Homo sapiens: one gene and its partners. The protein of the gene in region 4 interacts with the protein of the main gene of each other region in a pairwise test. Each region holds a gene or a part of one and is shown on either strand. Other genes may lie near its edges. The genes, in order: ACAT1, ATL1, CFAP298 and PEX7.

The links.
Region 1: the proteins of PEX7 (region 4) and ACAT1 interact in a two-hybrid assay, tested with the Homo sapiens proteins (one study listed by BioGRID).
Region 2: the proteins of PEX7 (region 4) and ATL1 interact in binary tests that used the Homo sapiens proteins (3 or more experiments, as listed by UniProt).
Region 3: the proteins of PEX7 (region 4) and CFAP298 interact in binary tests that used the Homo sapiens proteins (3 or more experiments, as listed by UniProt).

Annotation. Positions count from the first base shown.
Region 1 is NC_000011.10:108,131,542-108,138,575, reverse strand, and holds part of ACAT1 (acetyl-CoA acetyltransferase, mitochondrial isoform b precursor), read right to left. Parts: intron 6,670-7,034; coding exon 6,622-6,669; intron 4,757-6,621; coding exon 4,639-4,756; intron 4,356-4,638; coding exon 4,260-4,355; intron 3,435-4,259; coding exon 3,334-3,434; intron 1-3,333. UniProt on the Homo sapiens protein: This is one of the enzymes that catalyzes the last step of the mitochondrial beta-oxidation pathway, an aerobic process breaking down fatty acids into acetyl-CoA.
Region 2 is NC_000014.9:50,626,111-50,633,144, reverse strand, and holds the end of ATL1 (atlastin-1), read right to left. Parts: intron 5,115-7,034; coding exon 4,683-5,114; intron 3,151-4,682; coding exon 3,136-3,150; intron 917-3,135; coding exon 806-916; 3' UTR 100-805; downstream 1-99.
Region 3 is NC_000021.9:32,609,373-32,616,729, forward strand, and holds the start of CFAP298 (cilia- and flagella-associated protein 298), read right to left. Parts: upstream 3,006-7,357; 5' UTR 2,872-3,005; coding exon 2,733-2,871; intron 634-2,732; coding exon 466-633; intron 1-465. Other genes in the region: CFAP298-TCP10L (uncharacterized protein LOC110091775), read right to left, coding at 466-633, 2,733-2,871. UniProt on the Homo sapiens protein: Plays a role in motile cilium function, possibly by acting on outer dynein arm assembly. Seems to be important for initiation rather than maintenance of cilium motility.
Region 4 is NC_000006.12:136,909,587-136,914,463, reverse strand, and holds the end of PEX7 (peroxisomal biogenesis factor 7), read right to left. Parts: intron 1,007-4,877; coding exon 938-1,006; 3' UTR 530-937; downstream 1-529. UniProt on the Homo sapiens protein: Receptor required for the peroxisomal import of proteins containing a C-terminal PTS2-type peroxisomal targeting signal. Specifically binds to cargo proteins containing a PTS2 peroxisomal targeting signal in the cytosol.

The DNA of each region.
Region 1 (7,034 bases), on a different chromosome or scaffold from region 4:
AAAATACAAAAATTAGCTGGGTGTGGTGGTGGGCACTTCTAATCCCAGCTACTCGGGAGGCCAAGGCAGGAGGATTGCTTGAACCTGGGAGGCAGAGGTTGCTGTGAGCTGAGATTGTGCCACTGCACTCCAGCCTGGGGGGCAGAGCAAGACTCCTCAAAAGAAAAAAAAAAAAAGTAGAGGCGGAGATTGCAGTGAGCTGAGATCGTGCCACTGCACTCCAGCCTGGGTGACAGCAAGGCTCTGTCTCAAAAGTTCACAACCAGACATTAATAAGAATACCAGAAATCTGGCTGGGCACGGTGGCTCACCCCTGTAATCCCAGCACTCTGGGAGGCCAAAGCGGGCTGATCACGAGGTCAGGAAATCGAGACCATCCTGGCTAACAGTGAAACCCCATCTCTACTAAAAATACAAAAATTAGCCGGGTTTGGTGGCACACGCCTGTAGTCCCAGCTACTCGGGAGGCTGAGGCAAGAGAATGGCGTGAACCTGGGAGGCAGAGCTTGCAGTGAGCCAAGATCGCACCACTGCACTTCAGCCTGGGTGACAAAGCAAGACTCTGTCTTTAAAAAAAAAATACCAGAAATCTTTCATGTAAAACCATCTTCTGAAATTCTTAAATTTTCTTTTAGACAGGTCTCGCTGTTGCCCAGGCTGGAGTGCAGTGGCACGATCTCAGCTCACTGCAATCTCTGCCTTTTGGGCTCAAGTGATCCTCCCACCTCAGCCTCCCAAGTAGCTGGGACTACAGGCATGCACCATCACACCCAGCTAATTTTTGTATAATATTTTTAGTAGAGATGGGGTTTCACTATATCACCCAGGCCGGTCTCAAACTCCCAGACTCAAGCGATCCGCCCACCTCAGCCTCCCAAAGTGCTCGGATTACAGGTGTGAGCCACCATGACTGGCCTGAAATTCTTAACTTCTAACCCTTCATTTCATTCATGCTGCTAAAAATTTAATGTGCTCTAGAAGATTAGAAGTAATCTCAGTTCATGAAAATAATCATACTTCCTTGACTGAGATCCTCATCATCTCTTCCTGGACAGCTGAGATAATTTTCCACTTGATCTTCTGACATGCAGCCTTTCCACCAAAGCATCATCAACACTCATCTGACTCATTTTGGCTAGAATGTAAGTCTGATCATTTCGCACCTTAGATAACTCAGCATAATATATAAAGCCTTTACAGTATCCCTTCTCTCCCCTTTTTCAGTCTCACAGCCTAACCTATACCTCAGGTCACATGGAACTAGTTAAAGCTCTCCAGAGACACCATGCACATTTCACACACATACCTCTGCACTTTCCCCATCCACCAACATGTAAAACACCTACATTTCTCTTAAAACTAATCAGAACACTACTTCATGTCTGCCTTGACCATTTATTTCTATCCTTTCTTGAAACAGTTTCTCCTCCTTTGTGTTCCCCAATTACTATGCAATGCTTTTAATATTATTATATGTTTACATGTCAAGTCTTCCCACTAGACTATGCTCCTTTGAGGCCAGACACCCTGTCATATTTTTACATCCTTGGCAACTGGCATATATAAGTTTAATAAATATTAATCAACTTGTTACTACTTTACAAGTCAACAAAAAAAAATCACTTGCATTATAAGGGCTAGTTAAAAACAGTTTAATATAAAACATTAATGTAAACATAAAGCCAATAATATCTTCTTACAGTCTTTAATCAGGCATACAGACAAGCAAGCTCTATACCAAAGAAACATAAATATTTTGCCTATTCCGAAATAGAGAAATTCTTAATCAGTTCTCATCTAAGTTTTATTCACTTGTACTTTTTACTGGGGGTGATGGCAATAATAAGTGACAGAAAATAAGGTATCAATTCTTCATTATAAAGTAAAACTGACTGTTTTCTAAGGTCATAAATATTCAAAACAAAGCACTTCCAAGAATGCCTATAAGTCACTGTATATATCCACAAATGAATAAAATAATATTAAATGAAAGTATTTCAATATAGTACAAATGGCATTTGCTAGAGAACCACAATACTTCAATTAAGACAAAACTTTCCATGACAAACAGTTCTGAAACTAAATCTGGTGACCGTTTTTCACCTACCAGTTTGACAAGGGTTTGGTACCACCCAGTGGTGGTGCAGATCCAGACAAGTCACACAATTTTTGGAAAGTCTAACTGGTACAACTTTTATGGAAAGCATTTGCAAATACCAAAATGTTCAAATCCTGACTCAGCATTTCTTTTAGGCATTTTTCCAACAGAGACCTGCACATGTACAGATTTTTTTAAATGTTTTGTTCACCACTCTATTTCCAATGACTGTCACATGGCAGATGCTCAGCCCTGTAACTCTGTGGCTGTCTCAGACACACTGAAAAAAATCTTCATCTGAAAAATGAAGGGCTCAGATCTGAGAGAATCTTGATTCTTCTGTGTGTCCAGGTCTCACCTCCTGACATGACAGCATATTTTTGCTAAGGAGCCTGTCTCTTGCTTGATCTCAAGTAAAGACAAGATATAGATCAGCAAGGCTAATTAGAAAGCCTGTAGAACTTAACTTAATGACTACAAATTAGTCATCAAGCCTGGGCTCAAGCAATGATTTGATTCCCAGGGTTAAGCACCGTGTTCTCCTTTATAATGAAAACCTGTCTTATTCTGGCAAATACAGTATTTATGAATTTTTAGTCACCCAGCCTCAGAGAAAGACCCAAATGCCTTGACTAAAAACAATTTTTTTTTTTTGAGAGTCTTGCTCTATCTCCCAGGTTGGAGTGCAGTGGTACAATCTCAGCTCACTGCAATCTCTGCCTCCCAGATGCAAGTGACTCTTGTGCCTCAGCTTCCCGAGTAGCTGGAATTACAGGCACCTGCCACCACGCCCAGCTAATTTTTGTATTTTTAGTAGAGACGGGGTTTCACCATGTGATCTGCCCCCAGCCTCAGCCTCCCAAAGTGCTGGGATTATAGGAGTGAGCCACTGTGCCTGGGCCTAAAAACAACTTTGTAACACAAGACACTTAGGCTTTTTTTTTTTTCAAAGAGCAGAGTCTCGCTTGCTATGTTGCCTACGCTGGTCTCAAACTCCTGGGATCCTCCTGCCTCGACCTTCCAAAGTGCTTACAGACATGATACCCAGCCTACGCTATCATTTTGACCATACTTCAAATGGACTTAGCAAATCCAGACACTCTTGAGCATGTGAGAAAACATACTAACTTATGAGAAAGAATCTCATTTCTAAAATATGAATATGCCTAGATTTTTGTGTCTTTTAGCCCTAGGTATTACTCTGATTAATAAATGGGAAGGACGGTGTTTCTTACCTGATGTCCACACATAAGACTTTGAGAGGCCATCATGATGGCTTTCATTCCTGAAGCACAAACTTTGTTTATGGTGGTACATGGAGTAGAAATAGGTAAGCCTAAAACCAATATAAGTCACTTTTGAAAAACCGATACTCAAACACAACTGCAGAACTTAATAGAGCATGTTACTATAAACTACAACATTTCTTCTGCCAATATAACTACAAATTATATCATGCATTTAATATTTCATTTAAGCTTAAATAACCTTCATTTTGCCATTTTATACTTTTTTTTTTTTTTTTTTTTTTTTGAGACGGAGTCTCACTCTGTCCCCCAAGCTGGCGTGCAGTGGCGCGATCTGGGCTCACTGCAAGCTCCACCTCCTGGGTTCACGCCATTCTCCTGCCTCAGCCTCCGGAGTAGCTGGGACTACAGGTGCTGGCCACCACGCCCAACTAATTTTTTGTATTTTTAGTAGAGACAGGGTTTCGCTGTGTTAGCCAGGATGGTCTCAATCTCCTGACCTCGTGATCCACCCGCCTCGGCCTCCCAAAGTGCTAGGATTACAGGCGTGAGCTACCATGCCCAGCCTTTTTTTTTTTTTTTTTTTTTTCTTTCAGACAGAATCTCACTCTGTCGCCCAGGTTGGAGTGCAATGGTGCAATCTTGGCTCACTGCAACCTCCGCCTCCTGGGTTCAAGCGATGCTCCTGCCTCAGCCTCCCAAGTAGCTGGGATTAGTGCACCACCACACCTGGCTAATTTTTGTATTTTTAGTAGAGACGGGGTTTCACCATGTTGGCCAGGATGGTCTCCATCTCTTGACCTCGTGATCCGCCTGCCTCGGCCTCCCAAAGTGCTGGGATTACAGGCATGAGCCACCGCACCCGGCCCCTTTTACACATTTTAAGTATAAAAGCAAAAAAGTCTTCCAGGTACCTGCACCCAATACTGCCTGCCTTGTAGGAGCTTGTCCTTCACCTCCTTGTAGAACATTACCCATGTATGCTTCTTTCACTTCTTCTTTTGGAATCCCTTTATTAAAAAAAAAAAAAGTCAAAAAGGCATTTAATTCAATTTAATAATCAGTGATTACCTAATAAGGTAGGTGACATTACACAATAGGAATGGTTTCTTTTTTTTGTCAGTTTTGAGTTTCAATCTAAACTGTATAGTACAAAGACTTCTTTACAAGGGAAAGCAGAAATGTAGGCATTAAGTTATTTCTAAGTGTTACATACATAGTTAATGCAAAATAAATATCTTTTCCATGGAATCTTTTTGCTCCCTTAACACAAAAAGCCAAGTAACTACTGACCTGCCTTTTCAATGGCTCCCTGAATTGCAATGGAACCAAGCTTAGTGGCTGGCAGCAAGGAAAGGCTGCCTAAAAAAGATCCAATGGGTGTTCTTGTAGCACTTACTATGACCACTTCCTGGCAAGACACAAGATGGTAAAAATTATAGGTATTTTACCCAAATCGTATTTCATTAAATAAACATAAATATATTATCAAAAAAACACTTCTATGAATGAGTCATCAAAAATTAATCTCAATAGTTGAACAGCTGTCAAGATAATCAGTTCAATGCTAGTGCTTTATGATTTAAGACCTTATAGAAACCAACTCTAAAACAGATGTAGATCCTTCCCAGTTCTCTACAGGAGGTTTGAGGACAGAAGCTTAAGTTTCCTTTCTATTCCTCAGTCAAAATTCAAGAAATGATCACTGTACCTTGTTTTTTTGTTTGTTTTTGTATTTTTGTTTTTGAGACAGGGTCTTGCTCAGCTGCCCAGGCTGGAATGCAGTGGCACAATCATAGCTCATTGCAGCTCAAACTCCTCAGCTCAAGCAATCCTTCTGCCTCAGCCTACCAAAGTGCTAGGATTAAGGGTATGAGCCACCACACTCAGCCACTTTACTCTTGTTAACTGCATAATAAACAACTCTAAGAGGGTCCCTTACTGAAAGGAACTCTGGCTAGGAATCAAGACCTGTATCCTAGGTGGGGCAATACCACTTAACTAGGACAGAGCCAGGGCCAGAATTTCTTTTTTTATATGTAATTTGAGATGGAGTCTCACTGTGTCACCCAGGCTGGAGTGCAGTGGTATGATCTTGGCTGACTGCAACCTCTGCCTCCCGGGTTCAAGTGATTCTCCTGCCTCAGCCTCCTGAGTAGTTGGGATTACAGGCATCTGCAACCACACCCGGCTAATTTTTGTATTTTTAATAGAGATGGGGTTTTGCCATGTTGGCCAGGCTGGTCTTGAACTCCTAACCTCAGGTGATCCACGCACTTTGGCCTCCCAAAGTGCTGGGATCACAGGCATGAACCACTGTGCCCAGCCAGAGCCATAATTTCTTTTTTCTTTTTTTTTTTTTTTTTTTTTTTTTTTTGAGATGGAGTTTTGCTCTGTTGCCCAGGCTAGAGTGCAGGCACGTGATCTCAACTCACTGCAAGCTCCGCCTCCCGGATTCACGCCATTCTCCTGCCTCAGCCTCCCGAGTAGCTGGGACTACAGGTGCCTGCCACCATGCCCACCTAATTTTTTGTATTTTTAGTGGAGATGGGGTTTCACCGTGTTAGCCAGGATGGTCTCGATCTCCTGACCTCGTGATCCACCTGCCTCGGCCTCCCAAAGTGCTGGGATTACAGGTGTGAGCCACCGCACCCGGCCCAGAGCCATAATTTCTTAAACAGTAAGACAATAATATGAACTTTAAGCAAAAGAAGATAAAAGCTCTCTTGAATACTATAAAACAGCACTGTGACAGTTCTCTCCTTACACTTGTCTTCCACAATCTCCTATTAAGTTTAGAGATAAATAACAGAATGGTTGCTTAGATTTTGATAGAAGATCTTAACTAAGTCACTTTAGTGACCCTTACAAAACAGAGACTCTTCAGAAGGTCCTAGGAGATGCTGTAATGGCCCTCCTTGTCTAATTCCCAACTGGTCCACTCCCTCTCTTCTAGGATCTTCTATACAGTCTCTGCTTGTACCACACACAATACAATGCGAGTCCCTGTGAGTAAAAGAAGAACACTGCCCAGTTCTAGAGGGAATGTTGTTTTGTAGCAGACTATAAGGAAGCAACAAACATTGGCAGAGACTAACTGACATGTTTTTCTATTATAGTCATCTACTTTAACTGAATATTTGAATAGTTAGCTATTCCTAACTGTTACATAATCCTGCTTTGACTTTCACATGTATCCAAATCATAAGTATATGCATTTTTATTGACATTTCCTTTAAATTCTGGAAATTTTAAAGCACAATTTAAATTACTTACCTTCAAAGTGGGTTTTGATACATAACTCCGTTCCACATATCTTATTTCCTGTAATATAAATATTTATAATGTTATAATGTAAAAAATATTAAACTATATCATTTTATATTTCTCAGTGATAAGGTTATAGTGGTTTCTTCCTGCATCCTTATGCTTTTATTTCCAAGTTTTTTGTGGTCAGAATATATCACTTTTAACAATTAGAAAAAAATGACTGCTTTATAATAAACTTTTCTAATTAACTATTCATTGGAAATGTACGTTTTAACTCTTAAGTTTACTATCTTAAAATTTCCAAGTCTTGGCCAGGCGTGGTGGCTCATGCCTGTAATCCTAGCATTTTGGGAGGCCAAGGTGGACGGATCACCTGAGGTCAGGAGTTCAAGACCAGCCTGGACAACGTGGTGAGACCC
Region 2 (7,034 bases), on a different chromosome or scaffold from region 4:
TGTCAACATTAAATAAAATGCATCTTGAGTCTAAAAAAAGAGATAAACCTTCATCATTCTATATCAGCACCTCTCATTTTCAAATTCAGTAAGCATTTGTTTTTAATCTTAGGAACCAGAGTAAACTTTAATAATAGTTCACATATTAAAAGAATAAACCTATGAAGAATACATTCTTTGTGTACCAAATGAAAAAATATACAATGCAGTGAAACTCACATATACAAAGTGATTTTTTGTGCATTTTTTATCAAGAGGTTTATATTCTATTAAACCATGTAAAAGCAATATCTGGTTTTTGATAAAGCAACTAAGGAACTCTAAAATGTGCTTAAAAATAAGATTGTGATATATATAAGATGATACAGATTAAATCCAGCCTGCTGAGTTATGATGCTGTGTTTTAACAAATGGCTAATGTGAAATAATTTAAAATTTTTTCTGTAGAAATTAAATGAGCATATCCAAACGTGGAATATCACATGATTTAATTATAACCCAGTAGTAGAATTTAGTAAATTCAAGCAGAACACGTGTACTGTTATCATAAATAGACAAATACTTTATAACAGCATTTTTGAAGAAAAATCAGGAAATTGTACATGTTAACAAAATAGTATAACCATGCATACATACATCTGCTTATTAAACACTGAAGTAAAAGAACTAATCCAGTTTGCAGTCTTCAGAGGTGTTTAGTATTTTACTCCGTTCTGATGGAAGCACTTTGAATGTTTGCATGGAGACATAAAACTGAATATTTAATTGACAATTGGTCATGCACCTGTATTTCTTAAAATTTGCATTACATTTTTTTCTTTTCTGATTGTTCAGTAGATTCCGACTTTGGTGTAGGGAAAGCTTGATGATACAGATGTCTGTGGGTTGCTGCTGCACTGTAAAGCTTGTACAAAGCCTAGAATAAAAGCATCAAAATTATAAAACATTTTATTAAACACACAGATGTAAAATTTTTTCCTTTTTAGTTTATCGTACTGTATAAAATTTAGCATGTTGAATTTGAAATCTTTTTTAATCGATATATAAATTATTATCTTAAAATTCAAAAGTATTTTCAACTCCTCAATGTGTGCATTAACACTTTTGTGTGTTGACCTGTGTGGTGAATGTTTTATTCTCAAACTGTGTTTCCTTTTACCTTGCATACCTCTTGGAGCAGTGAGCTTCTACTTTGCCCCAGGGGTGTGCTGAAAATTCAAATTGTGAATATTAGCAGTTTTAGATGAATTGTAAGACCTCATAACTTCTGATTGGCAGTAACTATTATGCATAGCTAGGCTACTTGCTTTCTGGGCTTCCAGTGTTTTCCTGAGTGGGGCCAATTTTATTCTCCATCATTTACTGATACAGTCATGCAGCTAAGCACATATGGTGTCCTTCCCCCAGCACAGTAGGATCCTTCACTTTACACGCTCTTGCCTTGTTTCCGTGACTTAGCTAATATCTTACAAACCTTATTCAAAAACATTACCTCAGCAAGCTTTCCTCATTTAAAACTACCTCTTATTGTTCTCTGTGGGTTTTTAATGATGTTTGAATCATAGGAATCTCTGTGTATTGTATATTGCTTTATATAAGTGTTCATAGATATCTTTGTTTCCTGGCCCCGTTAGCTAGTGTCTAAGATTTCATCCCCTCCTCTGACTTTCACATACTTGACAGTCAGTTACAAATGACTTGTCTGATTTAGTTCTGGAGTTCGTAAAGAGTCTTTGAATATTTTTAAAAGCTGCATAAAAGCTTGAGATCCTTTAAATAGTAATCTGTTCCCAGGAAATTCCATTAATTTTTATCATTTGTGAGTCTATACCTACTTTCTTTGGATCTGGTTTTTTTTTGTTTTTGTTTTTGTTTTTTACTTTTTGAGTTGGAATCTCACTCTCTCGCTCAGGCTGGAATGCAGTGGTGGCACGATCTTGGCTCACTGCAACCTCCTCCCAGGTTCAAGCTATTCTCTTGCCTCAGCCTCCCCAGTGGCTGGGACTACAGGTGCCTGCCACCACACCTGGCTAATTTTTTGTATTTTTAGTAGAGATGGGGCCTCACCATGTTAGCCAGGCTGGTCTCGAACTCCTGACCTAACGTGATCCGCCCACCTCAGTCTCCCAAAGTGCTGGGATTACAGGCGTGAGCCACCGCGCCTGGCCTTGATTTTCTTATGGCATTACGTCTGTATGGTACCATCTTCAGATCTGTGAATGTATATTGGTGCAACATAGTATTGTTTTCCATTATATTCTGATTCTAAGGCATTCAATTTAATTCTAATTCTCTTATATTTTTTCTTAAGCTTTGATTTACAAAGCTGAAATTTGCTTTTGCTTTTTTAATGAACTTGCTTACTGAATTTTGCATAAAATAACTTCTTATTGACTTGTAAATAGTAAATGGTATTTGATTCGAGGACATAATCCAATTATATGCCACAGTAGAAACTGAGGAAAGAATTATCTCTATAGTTGTTCAAGATCAGCTTTGCTTCCTGAAGATAATGACCTAAATGATTCCAGAGTGGTAATTTTTCTTAGTGTAACAGATGATTCCTTCGTGGATGCCTAGAGTCTTTTCTGAGATATGTAGTGTTGCACATGTGCGGTAGGAGAAATGAACACTAATTTACAGGTCAGGCCTGAGGTCTGCCAAGAAAGAATACATACTGGCCTGGGCCCTGCTTAAAGTGGTATGTATTACTGTCAGTCAAAAGCCAAAGTTGAAAACAACTTCTAAAGGTTGTAGCTACATTTAAATAAATACCCTCCAGTAGTTACATTTCCTCAGGTTTCATAACTGCTTGCTTTACTCTGCAGTACAGCAGAGTCCACCATTTCAGAGCTTAAGAATTTTGAAGTTTTCTACACATTCATGAAACAAATACTGATGATATTCAATTCTTAGTTTTTGTGTGTGTGTAGATCAAATCATACATGATGTCTAGAAAAAGTTAAATATTTTAAGACCATGTTAAAAATTCACAATTACAAATTTAAATGTTAGAAGTCACCAAAGATTGTTCTAATCTACATAAAGACATCTTTTAATGGCTTAGTCAGTTTATAAAATAATATCATAATGTTTACACATACATAGCTCTGAATTTTAAAAAATTTAACTTACCTCATTTGTACTTCCCTGTGGCAAAGGCAGATTAAAAAGAAAAAAGAAAAGTATATATCCTGCTTTATTAACAGCATTATAATCAACTTTGCTTACAATATTAATTTGTGAGCATTTCAGAACAGATACTCCTGCAGATTTTTCAGTTTAGATTACATATTTTATCAGAATCTTTGAAGAACTCAATTCTGTATTCCTCATAGGTTTTAGCATAACATAAGTCTAGGAGGGTTTTGACATTGACCTCAACCCCTCTTAAATCTTTTGTGGTTGAGGGACTATTTCAGAAAGTGGCTCAGAGGATCCAGTTTTTACTTCATTCATTTCCCATTGTGCTACCACTAGTTTATCTCAGCTAGATCCTTCAAAGGCACGTTACAATTATGTTATAAAGTATATATAAGTAGGGTTTTTTTTTTTTTTTTTGGGAGATGGAGCTTCACTCTTGTTGCCCAGGCTGGAGTGCTGTGGTGCCATCTCGGCTCAGTGCAACCTCCGCCTTCTGGGTTCAAGCGATTCTCCTGCCTCAGCCTCCCGAGTAGCTGGGATTACAGGCATGCGCCACTATGACTGGCTATTTTTGTATTTTTAGTAGAGACGGGGTTTCTCCATGTTGGCCAGGCTGGTCTCAAACTCCCGACCTCAGATGATCCGCCCACTTTGGCCTCGGAAAGTGCTGAGATTACAGGCGTGAGCCACCGCACCTGGCCATAAGTATGTTCTTAATGCTGGAAGAATTGTAGCTATTACCTGCTGCCTACAGGTACAGAGACAATCTGAAGTAATCTGATACTGCTTTTGGAAGTTTTTAACTAAAAAAGAGAATGATATGACAACTTATGATAGTGGTTCAGATAGCTCCTAACAAAGCTAATGCTAATCAAATCATAGGTTGTAAATATGAGATAATGTTAACACAAGTCATAATTAGCTAAATAAAAGCTGTTGTCTCTTACAACTTTTAATAGATATAACATTTTTAGAATAATAAAAAGTAGGCTGGGTGGCTCACGCCTATAATCCCAACGCTTTGGAAGGCTGAGGCGCGCAGATTGCTTGAGGTCAGGAGTTTGAGACCAGCCTGGCCAACATGGTGAAACCCCGTTTCTACAAAAAATACAAAAACTTAGCTGGGGATGGTGGTATGCACCTGTAGTCCCATCTACTCGAGAGGCTGAGGCACAAGAATTGCTTGAGCCTGGGAGGCGGAGGTTGCAGTGAGCTGAGATCACGCCACTGCACTCCAGCCTAGATGACAGAGCAAGACTGCCCCCCTACCCAAAAAAAGAAAAAAAAGTATATATACTACTAAACTGATGTATATTTTTTTAAATGCTGAAATGTTAACTGGAAAATAGTTGTGTAGGACTTCACATTTTACACAGTATTATATAGTTAGTTGCTTGTATCTGGGCAGGTCATAACATTCTTGATGACTGGGGCCCAATTCCTGTTGATCTGTATTTCCAACATCTAATGCAGTGGCTGGCACATGGATGACATTCAAATGTGTGCTGAATTTAGTTGTGAATTAAAGGTGTTCTTACCTGGTCCCACAGAGCTGCAGCCACCTGGTCTATTACAGCTCCCAGCTCTCGGTATTCTCCAGAGTACCGGATATATGCCCAAGTGCACAGGGTGATAAGGGTCAGTCCCATTATCATATTGCATAGGCTAGCTATGATGTCCAAACCAATGAATCCAGTCACACCAGCAATCACATATGTGATAAAGATGACTACAAACAGTGTGGCTGGGGTACGAGCTGCATGGAAGATATTTTTGCTATCATTGTGCTTGATATATTGGATGTAAAGTTCATCTATTTCACTCTCCAACTGCTGCAGGTAACGCCGGCTAAATTCTTCCCCACCCATCTTCTTCACCCCTCGGAATAGCTTCACAGATTCTTCCTTAAGTTGCAGGTGTTTGGTCTGCAAGTCATTTGGGGCCAGAAATGGTTTGTCACCACCACAAATCTGTATCAGATAGAGAAGTATTTGTTTATGCAATGCAGAGTAAAATTGGCAACTGTATCAAAATTTTTCACTTAGCTAGTTGAGTTTGTTAGAATACGTTAATAATCAGGAGCCTGCATATATGTTTTGTCAGCCCACATCTTTCCACCCCCTATCCACGAGGCATGACTATAAATGGGACTGGTATTTTATAGGTGGCTTAAAATCATTTTAAATTTTTCTCTTTTTGACATGGAAAATAATATTTATCACTTAATCCAAGTCCTTCAAGATGAAAAGACGTGTGACACAACATGAAGTGCAAACTGAGTTCATTCACAGAATGAATCCAAATCTAAGAAAACTACGTATATCCAAATTCTAGGAAATCTAACTACACTGAAGTCATGTTAACCAATGAGGTTTAATAAACAATGATCAATGCTATAAAGCTCTCAAAGTAAACTGTGAAATACATTCTTTAGCAGTTTTACTGATTTTTATTTGAATGGAGCCAATTGAGTATTTTCTTCCAGAAACTAAGTTAGGAGTATATTAAATGTTCTTGAATAACATTTTCAATTTTTTGAAAAGTTACAAGGGTAATCTCAGTTAACCATACCATTCACTTTGGTTACAGGCATGCCTCAGAGATAATACATGTTTGGTTCCAGACCACTGCAATAAGCAAGTCACATGATTTTTTTTATTTCCTAATTCATATAAAAGTTATGTTTACATTATGTAGCAGTCTAGTAAAGTGTGCAGTAGCATATCTAAAAACCATGTACATAATTTAAGAACACTTTATTGCAAAAAATGCTAAGGATCATCTGAGCCTTCAGCACATCAATCTTTTTGCTGGTGGAGGCTCTTGCCTCGATGTCGATGGCTGCTGACTGATTAGGGTGGTGTTGCTGAAGGTTGAGGTGGCTGTGGCAATTTCTTAAAATATGACAACAGTAAAGTTTGCCATATTGATAGACTTCCTTTCATGAAAGATTTCTCTGTAGCCTGGGATGCCATTTGACAGCATTTTACTCATAGTAGAACTTCTTTAAAAATTGGAGTCAATCCTCTCTAACCCTGCCAATGCTTTATCAACTAACTTTATTTCATATTTTAAAGCCCTGGAAAGGAAAAGAGTAGGGGGAAGGGGATGAAGAGAGGTTGATTAATGGGTACAAATAAAGCAGTTAGAAGAAATAAGACAGTGTTCAATAGCTCAGTAGGGTGACTGTAATTAGCAATAATCTACTGTACATTTCAAAATGGCCAGAAGAGAATAATTCGAATGTTCCTAGCATAAAGAAATATTAAGGTGATAAATACCACACTTTCCCTGATTTGATCTTTACACATTATATGGATGTATCAATTTATCATATGTACTCCAAAAATATGTACATCTATTATGTACCAATAAAAAATATTCTAAACCCTTTGTTGTCATTTCAACACTGTTCACAGCATCTTCGCTAGGAGTAGATTCCATCTCCAGAAACCACTGTCTTTGCTTATCCATAGGAAGCAACTCCTTATCCGTTAAGAGAATACAAAATTGAGTCACATCTTCAGGCTCCACTTTTAAGTTCTCTTGCTGTTTGCACCACACATGCACTTCCTTCCTCCACTGAAGTCTTGGACCCCTCTCAAAGTCATCCAGAAGGGTTGGTATCAACTTTTTCCACATTCTTGTTGATATTTTTGCCTCCTATAAACCACAGATTCTCTTCATGGCATCCAGAATGGTGAATTTCTCCTGGAAGGTTTTCAATGTACTTTGCCCAGATCCATCAAAAGAATCACTATCTATGGCAGCTATAGCCTTACAAAATGTATTTCTTATTAACTTTTGAAAGTCAAAATTACTCCTTGATCCTGGGCTGTAGAATGGATATTGTGTTAGCAGGCATGAAAACATTAATTTCCTTAAATACA
Region 3 (7,357 bases), on a different chromosome or scaffold from region 4:
AAAGCTTCCTTTATCTACCTAATTCATCCTAGATTAGAGTTTTACCAAAGGAGCTACAGAGTACAGTATTTTGTAAGTCTGTAGAGAAATGACGAGGTCAATTTTTAAACGTAAAGAACTGCTTTCTCACACCTGTAATCCCAGCACTTTGGGAGGCCGAGACCGGCAGATCATCTGAGGTCACGAGTTCGAGACCAGCCTGGCCAACATGGCAAAACCCCGTCTCTACTAAAAATACAAAAATTAGTCAGGTGTGGTGGCACATGCCTGTAGTCCCAGCTACTCAAGAGGCGGAGGCAGGAGAATCGCTTGAACCTGGAAGACAGAGGTGGCAGTGAGCTGAGATTGTGCCACTGCACTCCAGCCTGGGCTAGAGCAAGAATCCGTCTCAAAAAAAAAAAAAGGAACTGTTTTCATACTTATGCCTGTATCAAGCATGCACATAGAAGAGAAATCCTCACTTACCTTGCCCATTCCTTCGTCCAATATCATCCTTTTTAAACACTGCACCTCCGCTGGGTACGCATTTTTCACCCCATTCATCCTTCAATTTCAATTCTTCAATCTGATCATCGGTCAGTCCTTGCATATTAGGAGGGAGAAATATGCCATGTTCGGCTAATTCTTCCATTTCTTAAAAATAAGTGAAAGACAGTATCACAATCATAACACCTCATACCCCATTGGAATGTAAGCTCCAAAGAGTCAGGGGTCTTGCCCATCTGGCTCACTATTTTATGGAACAAACATTTATATGCCACTTGCTATGTGCCAGACCTGGCCTGGGCCTTTGACACGGGGGCATGGTACTGGTCTTATTCATCCTTGTCTTTTTTTTCTTTGAGACAGGGTCTCCCTCTGTCACCCAGGCAGGAGTGCAGTGGCGCGATCTCAGCTCACTGCAGCGATCTCAGCTCACTGCAGCATTGCCTCCCGGGTTCAAGCGATTCTCACGCCTCAGCCTCCCGAGTAGCTGGGACAACAGGCATGTGTCACCACGTTTTGTATTTTTAGTAGAGACTGGGTTTCACCATGTTGCCCAGGCTAGTCTAGAACTCCTAGGCTCAAGTGATCCGCCCGCCTCAGCCTCTCAAAGTGTCAGGATTACCCGTGTGAGCCACCACGCCCGGCCCCATCCTTGTCTTCTGAAGGCTGAGCACTGGTGCAGAATAAATACATGAATTTTCAGTTCACTAATGTGACTCTTAGCATTCAGCACATTTCCAATTTATAACGTTATAGGAAAAGAAGATGAATTCCTTTTCTCCTCAAATGCTTTAACTTAAAAATAACATTTAATATTGAGTTTGTGTTGGAACCTCAATTAAGAAACTACACATAAGTTTCATGAAAAGAACCATGACCCTCAGGAATTTCTCCACGGTGCAAAACTCACATATTCATATAATGTAATCAATACATTTCATAATAAATCACATATTCATGCAATTTAATAAATCACATAAATGAATATACTATTTATTGCAAATAGTTACGTTTGTATATTCTATATATACACGATAGTTATATAAACAGTAATATCCTAGACCACATCAGGAAGTATCATCCCGTCAAGTTCAAAAACTATGCTGTCTAATGCGGCAGCTACTCGCTCCACTTGGCGATTTAAATTTATTTAAATTAAAATGACCCAGACGCGATGGATCACACTTGTAATCCTAGCACTTTGGGAGGCGGAGGCAGGCGGATCACCTGAGGTCAGGCGTTCGAGACCAGCCTGGCCAACATGATGAAACCCCGTGTCCACTAAAGATACAAATATTAGCTGGGCGTGGTGGTGGGCGCCTGTAATCTCAGATACTTGGGAGGCTGAGGCAGGAGAATAGCTTGAACCCGGGAGGCGAAGGTTGCAGTGAGCAGAGATCGCGCCACTGCACTCCAGCCTGGGCAACAGTAAGACCCTGTCTCTCACACACACACATACCATATATATATATATATATATAATTTATTTATATTTATATATACATATATATAATTTATTTATATTCATATATACTATATATATGGTATTTATTTATATTTATATATATTTAATTAATTAAAATGCAAATGTAAAATTCGGTTGCCTGGCCGCACTAGCCACATTCCAAATGCTCTACGGCCACAAGTGGCCGGCAGCTGCCCAATGGACAGCACAGATGGGGGCCCTTCCACCGCCGGAAAGTTCTGCGGCAAAGCGGGTGCCCTGGAACCTGCGCGGGGTAGGGAGACGGCGCCGCAACGCAACAGGCCGTTTCCAGGGCGGGGAAAGATCACCAAGGCTTCCTCAACTGTAAGGGGCCGTCCCAAAGCCAGGTGGCTCGCTGCTTTACATTGGGCGACTAAAAATAGTAAATTCAGCTTTTAAAAGCCCACCTAGTTCTCATCTCACCCCTCACACGTGATTAATTGCACTAAGTCTGCTGTTCAGCCCGGCCTTTCGGCTCCCTCCTCCCTCCCCAGCCCATTTCCACTTATTCGCAGCACCCCAAATCCTGGCTCCGAGAGGCACCTGGGCCCACCTCCCAGCCCGGGGTGTCAGACAGGCCGGATCTTCTCCGGTTCCTTATTCATCTCCGGTTAACCCTAGTGTCCCGTTTCAACCCCGGCTGCTGCAAATCTCTTCAATAATCTTCACAAACCTGACCCCTCGGCCCACCCTGCCCCTCTTTCTCCATCCCACGCCGGTCTCTCGATCTGTCCGGGATGGGCCCACCCGCGAGCCGCACCTGAGCAGAGGCGCTGCACCTTGAGCCGCCCATTATAGACCCGGGCCACCTGCACCGTGAGCTCCTCCAGCTCGGTACTCCCAGGCGCCTGCAGCAGGAACTGGCTCTCGTCGCCCCGCTTCACGTGCAGCAGAACCATGGCGGTCCCGCCGAGGTACTGAGGCGTTGAGAAGGCCCCGGCTGCGTGGCCCGCGGGTCCTGCCGGCCGAGGGTCGCCGGATCGCCAGCAGCTGCGACGCACTAACAGCCGCTCACAGTCCGGAATCCCACGCTCCCTAGCCCGCGGTGAGCGGGGGAAACGGCACTCGCTCCCGGAAGTGGATGTTGCCAAGAGCAACAGTGAAGCAGAGTTAAAGAGCCGCCAGCTCAAGCTCAGAACCCGAGTGGGGGAGGCTGGGGTGCACCGAGGCCCAGCAATCCAAGCCCGTACGGAGCTGCGGCCGGGGAAACCACCCACACAGTCTGAGAGGACAGCTGATTCTGAGCGGACCGACGGAAGGAGATTCGCAGAGCCCCTTCCCGGAAGTGACTGTTGTCGCGGCAACTGCCAAAACACAGACCAAGTCGCTGAAGGGGAGGGCGGACCTCCCAATCGACTGGTCTGGGGCCCGAGATTTCCACTCAGGGAGATACGTGGGCTGAGATGGGAGTTACTAGATGGGGAACGGGAAATACGGCGGGAACCACAATCGCGCAGTTCCGCAGCTGCCGCCCCACAACCGCTCCACATTCCAGCGTCCCTTCCGCCGCTTTCAGTCTCCACTTCCGGCAACGTTTCCACGCTGTTTCCGGCCTGGGAAAGTTCGGCGGCAGCGACCCAGAACTGAGTCTTGCTGTTCGCTGCTGTTTGCGCGGGTCAGCTTTTCAGGACGGAGGGGCCAGGGCGAGTGTCCGCACTTCTTCGTTCAGGTTGATTTGGATGGCGTTGCTGGGGTAGCTCCAGCGGCCCCTGCCAGAGCGACCCTCCCAGAAATATCCAGCCATCCTCCAGCGGACTCTTGCTGAAGGCAGTCGGCGTCAGTCGCTGTTTATTCCGGGCCCCACAGATCCAGAGTCACTGCTCTCATGGAGCTTATATTTTAGTGTGACAAAAAGAAAACAAAAATAAATGGACAGGCCAGGAGCGGTGGCTCACGCGTGTAATCCCAACACTTAGGGAGGCCGAGGAGGGCGGATCACCTGAGGTCAGGAGTTCGAAAGCAGCCTGGCCAACATGGTGAAACCCCTTCTCTACTAAAAATACAAAAATTAGCCGAACGTAGTGGCGCGTGCCAGTAATTCCAGCTACTAGGGAGCCTGAGGTGGGAGAATTGCTTGAACCCGGGAGGCGGAGGTTGCAGTGAGCCTAGATCGCGCCACTACCCTCCAGCCTTGGCGACAGAGTGAGACTGTGTCTCAAAAATAATAAATAAACAAACGGACAACACAAATTCAAATACAGATCTAAAGAAAACTAAACAGGTTGATGGACTTCTTATGTTTGATGGTCAGGGAATGTACACCTTCTGCGATATTGGGAGTAATATTATCGTCTCCCGCCCTGAATATTTAGAAAAATATCACAGTGGGGTGTACACCCCTGCGATATTGAGAGTAATGTCATCCTCTCCACCCAGGAAATTACTAACAAGGTCACGGAGGGGTGTACTCCCCCTGTGATATTGGGAGTAATGTTTTCCTCCCCAAACCTGGATGTTAGCAACAAGATAACAGAGGGGGTGTACACACCCTGCGATATTGGAAGTAATATGATCCTCTCCCCCCCGGATACTGGGAAAAATATCACAGCGCGGGTATACATTTCCTTCGCTGTTGGGAGTAATATCATTCTTTTCCTCTCTGGATATCAGGAACAATATCACAGGGGTGGTGTACATTTCCTTCGATATGGGGAGTAATATCATCCTCTCCCCGTTGGGATACTAGGAACAATATCCCAGGGGGGTGTCCACCCTCTGCGATATTGGGAGTAATATCATCCTCTGTTTCCCCGGATATTAGACACAATATCACAAAAAAGTGTACACCCCCTGCGATATTGGGAGTAATATCATACTCTCCTTCCCTGGATATTAGAAAACAATATCATCAGGGGTGAGCACCCCCTGCGATAATGGAAGTAATATTTTCTCTTTTTTTCTTTTCTTTTTTTTTTTTTTTTTTTTTTAACAGAGTTTCACTCTTGCTGCCCAGGCTGGAGTGTAATGGCATGATCTCGGCTCACTGCAGCCTCTGCCTCCCGTATTCAAGCGATTCTCCTGTTTCAGCCTTCCAAGTAGCTGGGATTACAGGCATGCGCTACCATGCCCGGCAATTTTTTTTTTTTTTTTTTTTTTTTGTATTTTTAGTAGAGACAGTGTTTCTCCATATTGGTCAGGCTGGTCTTGAACTCCCGACCTCAGGTGATCCGCCTGATTCAGCCTCCCAAAGTGCTGAGATTACAGGCGTGAGCGATCGCGCCCAGCCACCACTTAGCATTTTCATTTTACATTTGTTGAAGTTACAGATTTATACACACATTGATTGCTGCTTTATTATACACTTGCATATACATAAAATGGGAAATAGAAAAGAATAAAATGGGCACAATATCCCTAAAGTTTCACATTCCGAAACATTTTTTAAATATTTGCTTTTTAGAAATTTGTTTCAATTAAGAAACTGCGGTATACACACACAATGAAGTATTATTCAGCCTAAAAAGGAATAAAATCCTCTCCGCTGCAGAAAAAATGGATGAGATTGCAGGTCTGTATGTTAAGTGAAATAAGCCAGGCACAGAATGACAAATATTACATGTCCTCACTTATACGTAGGAACAAAAAAGAAAATCTTGGCCAGGTGGCTCAGGCCTGTAATCCCAGCACTTTGGGAGGCCGAGTTGCACGGATTACTTGAGGCCAGGAGTTTGAGAGCTGCCTGGCTAACATGGTGAAACCCCGTCTCTACTAAAAACACAAACAATTAGCCAGGCGTGGTGATGCGTGCCTGTAGTCTCAGCTACTCGGAAGGCTGAGGCCCAAGAAGCGCTTGAACTCGGGAGGTGGAGGTTGCAGTGAGCCTGGACTGTGCCTGTATGCTCCAATCTGGGCAATGGAAAGAGACTCCATCACACACCTACAAACAAAAGGAATCTCAGGAAGGTGGAGAGTATAAAGGGGGTTAGCAGACGCTAGGAAGAAAAGGGGTGGATGGGGAATGAGGAGAAGTGGATAATTGGGTCCCAAAATACAGAAAGATGGAGTAAGTGAGTTCTAGTGTTTGATAGTACAGTATGAAAATTTTAGTTCACAAGAATTTCTTGCATATTTCCAGATGCTTTGGTAAGAAGCTTCCTAACTTTCTCATTATGCTGGTTTTTAAGCTCTTGTCTTCTGCTCTTGAAATCATGCTGGTTTTTTGTTTTTTGTTTTGAGATGGAGTTTTGCTCTTCTTGCCCAGACTGGAGTGTAACAGTGCAATCTTGGCTCACCACAACCTCTGCCTCCTGGGTTCAAGTGATTCTCCTGCCTCCACCTCCTGAGTAGCTGGGATTACAGGCATGCGCCAGCATGCCCAGCTAATGTTGTATTTTTAGTAGAGACGGGGGTTTCTCCCTGTCGGTCAGGCTGGTCTTGATCTCCTGACTTCAGGTGATCCGCCCGCCTTGGCCTCCCAAAGTGCTGGGATTACAGGCGTGAGCGACCACGCCCGGCCCATGCTGTATCCTTATCTGTTGTTTGTTGTGGTTTGTTTGTTTTTGAGCCCAGAAATAACTTCTCACCTATGTGTTCAAATGATTTTTAACATGAGTGCTAAGAAAGCTCATTGGTGGAAAAGCAGCCTTTTCAAGAAATGGTGTTGGAGAAACTTGATTTCCACATGCAGAAGAATGAAGGTGGACCCTATGTCACACCAGGTGCAAAAATTAACACAAACTGGATCAAAGACCTAACCCCAAGTGCTAAAAGTATAATATGCCTCAAAGAAAACATTGGCCACACTTTCATGACATCAGATTGGGCAATGCTTTCTGGGATATGACACCAAAAGCATAGGCAACGAAAGAAAATTAGATTCCTTGGATTACATCTAAATGACAGACACTTTTGTGCATCAAAAAACACTGTGAACTGAGTGAAAAGATAACCCATGGATTCGGAAAAATATTTGCAAATCATATATCTGAAAAGAGGCTGATATCCATCATGTATAAAGAACAGCTAGAACTAAGCAACAAGAAACCCAAAGCATCCCATTGACAATGGTCAGAAGACTCGAGTAGACGTGTCCCTAAAGAAGATACAGCAATGGCCAATAAGCATCTAAGATGATGTTCAAAATCACTCATCATAGGGAAGCGCAAATCAAACCAATAATGTGATACCACACATTAGGATGGATATGATAAACAAGCATTGGTGAGACTAGAGGGAAGTAGGAATGCTCGAATATGATTGCAGGGAATGTAAAACCGTGAAGCAACAGTGAAAATAGTATGGCGTGTACTGGAAAAATTAGAAACAGAATTATCAGATGTTCCTGCAGTTGCATTTGTGGGTACCTACCAAAAAGAATTAGAAGCCAGGAGTGGAAGAGATATTTGTACACCCATATTCATAGCAGCATTATTCACAACAGCCAAA
Region 4 (4,877 bases):
TAGTTTGTTTTGCTGATTTTTCCTCTTTAACCAACTTTTTTTGTTTTTTTCAGTTCATCTGCACCTAGAGCTTTTTCAAGAAAACTTAGGGAGGTGGCAAGGAGCACGTATAGCTGTACTTAGGCCTGGTTTCAAGGGCAAAAGCTAGAAGCCTTAGTAGGACCTAAAACTTTTTGTTTAATTGACAGTTTAAAAAAATTTTGATATTAGAGAAGTGGGAAGACAAAATTATAGAGTCATGGGTACAATATCTAAAAATGTGTGAATAAATTCTAAGAAAAAAAAAAAAGTAAGCTCTTAGCTCACAGCATTCCATGTTCTTAAAAACATGGCACCAGTCCTTGACAGAATCTCATTGAGTCTATGTGTCAAGCACTGAGTAGATGCTCAATAAACAGCTACTAAATAAAAGAATAAATTAAATATATTCTAGTGTCCTGTTACTGAACCACAGATATATCTATATTATATATAGTACTATATTCACATATACAATGTATTAGAAAGAGCAGTCTTTTGGGGGAAGTTATAAAATGATAAATGATCAATAGATAGTTTATTTATCACAGCAGTGATTATATTTTACATCAAAAATGACAAATTAAAAATGAAATATATCACTATCTATATAAGTATAACCTACTGATCTCCCATATTTTAATCCATTTTATGACCCAGAGACATTTTAATAGATACTACAAGATATATCATAACATTAATTATTTCTTAGAATTTTAAATATGGCTTATGTATCAGGCTTAACGAGTCAGCTAAAGTCTTTATCAGCTCCCTCAAAACTGATTCCAGGGTAAATTGGAAAGATTTGAAATCTGAATAGCATATAAAAGCATAATGTCTATGTTTTCCATAGTTAATTTATTTGCTGTTAGGCAGTTCTTCAGCCAACATCCTCTGTTTCTGACCAAAGTAGTGTATCTCAAGCAGGAATAGTAAGACAAGCAGGGTCATAGATCTTTATTGTTTCATCCCAAGAACAGTCAGCCACCTAGAAAACAAAAATGAAGTAAGAAGAAACGTATTTAGACATACAAAAATTCAAAATTGACAGCAAAAACTCAAGTCATTTAGAGTGTCGTAAATCATCCACTAGTAAACATATTTTTGAATAGGGAAAACATAGGGCTACGTTTTTGATAAAAGGTCCATATTCCCTTTTTAGGATATACCTCAGGGTATTCCAACTGATTCCCATTGATTGAGTATATTCCAATTGGTATATTTCAATTGACTGAGGTTTCCTATAAGAATGTCCCCCACCTTCACTTCACCCAACAGCTACATAATTCCCTACTATCTGATATAAATGTCGAAAAGATACGTTCCAGACTGTGAACAAGATGCTGTGCTCAATATTGTGGGACTGGAGAGGAAGATAAAGTAAAGCTCTTGCCTTCAAAAAATGGCTCATTCAAGACTGAGTGTGGAAGGTGCACTAACAGAGACTCTTAGGGGGACTATATGATTCCAGCTGGGACAGTGTCAGACAACTTCACAATGCCATGGCATTCCCACTGGACCTCTGTAGGAGGCAGACATAAAAGACAAGGACATTCACATCTACAGAGCCATAGGAAAACATGAAGGGAAGAAAGTCCAGGGTGTTCAGGAACTATGCATTAAAAACTTAGTGAATATAGCAATGTCTCCGGGTATAAAATTAATATATGAAAACCACTGTGTTTCTATATACTCGTTTTTTAATAGAAATGGATGAGGCAATTTTTAAAATTTATGTGGAAATGCCAGGACTTAGCCAAAAGAATCTTGAAATGAAACAAAGCTGCACTACTTAACACTAGCTGACTTCCAGACTCAGCACGAAACTACTGTAATCAAGACTGTGCAGGATTAGGATAAAGACAAGTAGATCAAAGGAAGAGAACAGAGTTCAGAAATAGGCCCCACACTTGGACAAATGGCTTTCAACAAAGGTACCAAAACAATTAAAGAGCAAAAGGAAAAAATAGTCTTTTCAATAAATGGTGGCAGAACAACTGAATATCCATAGGGAAAAAAGTGAATCCTGACCCCAACTTTGCACATAAAAATGAATTTGAGATGCACCACAGACCTAAATATAAAAGCAAACTGTATAACACTTTCAGAAAAAAAAAAAGGAAAATATATTCTCAATACAGAGGTAAGTAAAGATTTCTTAGGGATACAAAAAGTAATAATCAAAAATTTGGTAAGTTACACTCAATCAAAAATAAAACTTTTGCTCATCAAAAGACACTGTTAAGAAAATGAACAGGCAAGACACAGTTATATAAAATATTCATAAAATATACACCTGACAACTTGTATCAAGAATACATAAAGAACCAATACAACTCAATAATAAAAGGCAATCTAATGAAAAATGATGGGCAAAAGTAAGCACATAAAAAAGTGCTCAACATCATTAGGGATTAGGGAAATGCAAATAAAAATGACAATGAGATACCACCATATATTCACATTATGGCTAAAATTAAAGATTGACAACACCAAATGTCAGCAGGGATGTGGAACAGCTGTGATCACATACATTGCTGGTAGGGAAGGTATATGGTACCACCATTTTGGAAAACAATTTGGCCGTTTCTTACCAAGTTAAACACATACCTATCTTTTGACCCAGTAATTCCACTCCCAGATATTTGTCCAAGAAAAATGAAAACATATGTTTGCAAAACAATGTAGACACGAATGTTCATAGCAACTTCATTCACGATAGCAAAAAATCGAAAACAAGGCTGGGCAAAGTGGTTCATACCTGTAATCCCAGCATTTTAGGAGGCTGAGGCAGATGGATCACCTCAGGTCAGGAGTTTGAGACCAGCCTGGGCACCATGGTGAAACCCCACCTCTACCTAAAATACATAAAATGAGCCAGGTGTGGTGGTGTGCACCTGTAATCCCAGCTACTAGGGAGGCTGAGGTGGGAGAATCGCTTCAACCTGGGAGGCAGAGGTTGCAGTGAGCCGAGATCATGCCACTGCACTCCAGCCTAGGCAACAGAGTGAGACTCTGTCTAAAAAAAAAGGAAAACAACCAAAATACCCACTAACAAAAGAATCGGTAACAAATTGTAGTAAATTCATACAACAGCATGTGCTCAGCAAAACAAAGGGAGGAATTGCTAACAGGCTCAGTACCACGGGTGAAGCTCACAGGTAAGAGGCCAGAAACAAGTGAGGACATACAGAAGAGTTCCTTATAGAATTCTAAGACAGGCAAAACTCATCTAAGGTAAACAAACAAACAAACAAAAAGTCAGAACAATGTTACTCTTCTCACCTGGAGGGAAGGGTGGGGATAGGGGAGATTGGAAAGGGGTAAAAAGGAAACTGGGGGCTTTCCCAGTTTCCAATAACTGGGATGATGTGAATTTCACAGACGTATCTATTTGTCAAAAATGTATATCTAAGATTTGTAAATTTCAATATATGTGAATTATACCTAAAAATAGTAAAAATAATGTTAGCGATAACTAAACGATGTGTGAGAGTACAGGAATAAATAAAATAAGAATGTTGATAGTTGTTCAAGCTAAGTAATGAAGTTCGTTATCTGATTCTGTTACTTTGTATGTTTTCAAAATTTTCCACAATTTAAAAAAAAGAAGAAAAGAAACAAGGTAGGCAGTAAAATGAAAGATGAAGTAGCAAGAGAGTGCTTTTGACCAAAAGTATTTGCACTCCATTTCCCAGCCTTTCATGCTTATTACAAAGGCTGAAAATTACACAAGAGAAACCTCGTTTTGACTAATGTAATTTCTTGGCTATCACTAATTTTGAATAGTGATAGCCAATCATTCACTACCAATATTCTGAGATCAGAATCCAAGCTACAGAGAGCATTATAGACTTTTTAGTCAAACTTTTAAATTTAAAAACCTCACTCTTCAAGATCTGGTTGTTCCCATTTCATTTCTCATTGCACCGGGCTCACACCTCAAATCCAAGCATGCTGCTTATGCCTCTTCGCTCTTGTTCCTTTACTGATCGCTTCCCTTTAATAACTCCTCTTCTCCCTCCCTTTCTGTCTGCTCCTCTGTCCCCTTTGCCTTGCTCTGCCAGAGATGTCTCTTTTTTAAAAAATCAGTTTAGGTATCATCTCCTCTATGAAGTCATTCATTGTACCCATAATACTTGATTGTACTTATTTTCCCAACTGAAGACAAAGAGTTGTCTTCAGCTCTTTGAGGGCATGGACCATGTCTTATTAGAACATAACTCAATGAATATTGGCTCAACAAATTAATTTCATAGATTACAATTTCAGAGGTTAACTCTGTCCTCATGTTCACAATAGAGTAGCAGAGCTACAGCCAGAACCTAAACCTGTTGAATGTATCCACTAAAACAGTGCCTCATAGAAAAGGCAAACTGAAAACCATTATTTGCCTAATCTTGCAGTTTTCAGTTTTTATACCATAGGACACAAAGATCATTATGTTAAATTACCCCTGTCTCATCTATGCCTATTTTTTTCAAGTGCTGGGCCTTCCCACATGTTAAGCATCCGCTACTGGAGAGAAGAGAATCAGAGAAATAAGACTTAGGTTTCTAGTGCAAGGTATCTATAAATTATGTTTCTGAAACCTTATTCGGCACTCTCCAATCCAGCTTCTTATTTATTCAGGACTTATAATAACTACCAAATGTCAAGGCCACTGATTCAGCAAATGTTCATAAATCTATACTTAATTGGATTAAGATAGATCTAAAACTGCAATGATATAGAATTATGAATAGATTAATTCAAATTGATGAAAATAGTATTCCTCTATTTGTTAATTAAGCCCTATCTGGTTCTACAAATTTAAGCAAGCTAACAATAAAGAAAATAATAATAAGGTAAGAAAAAAG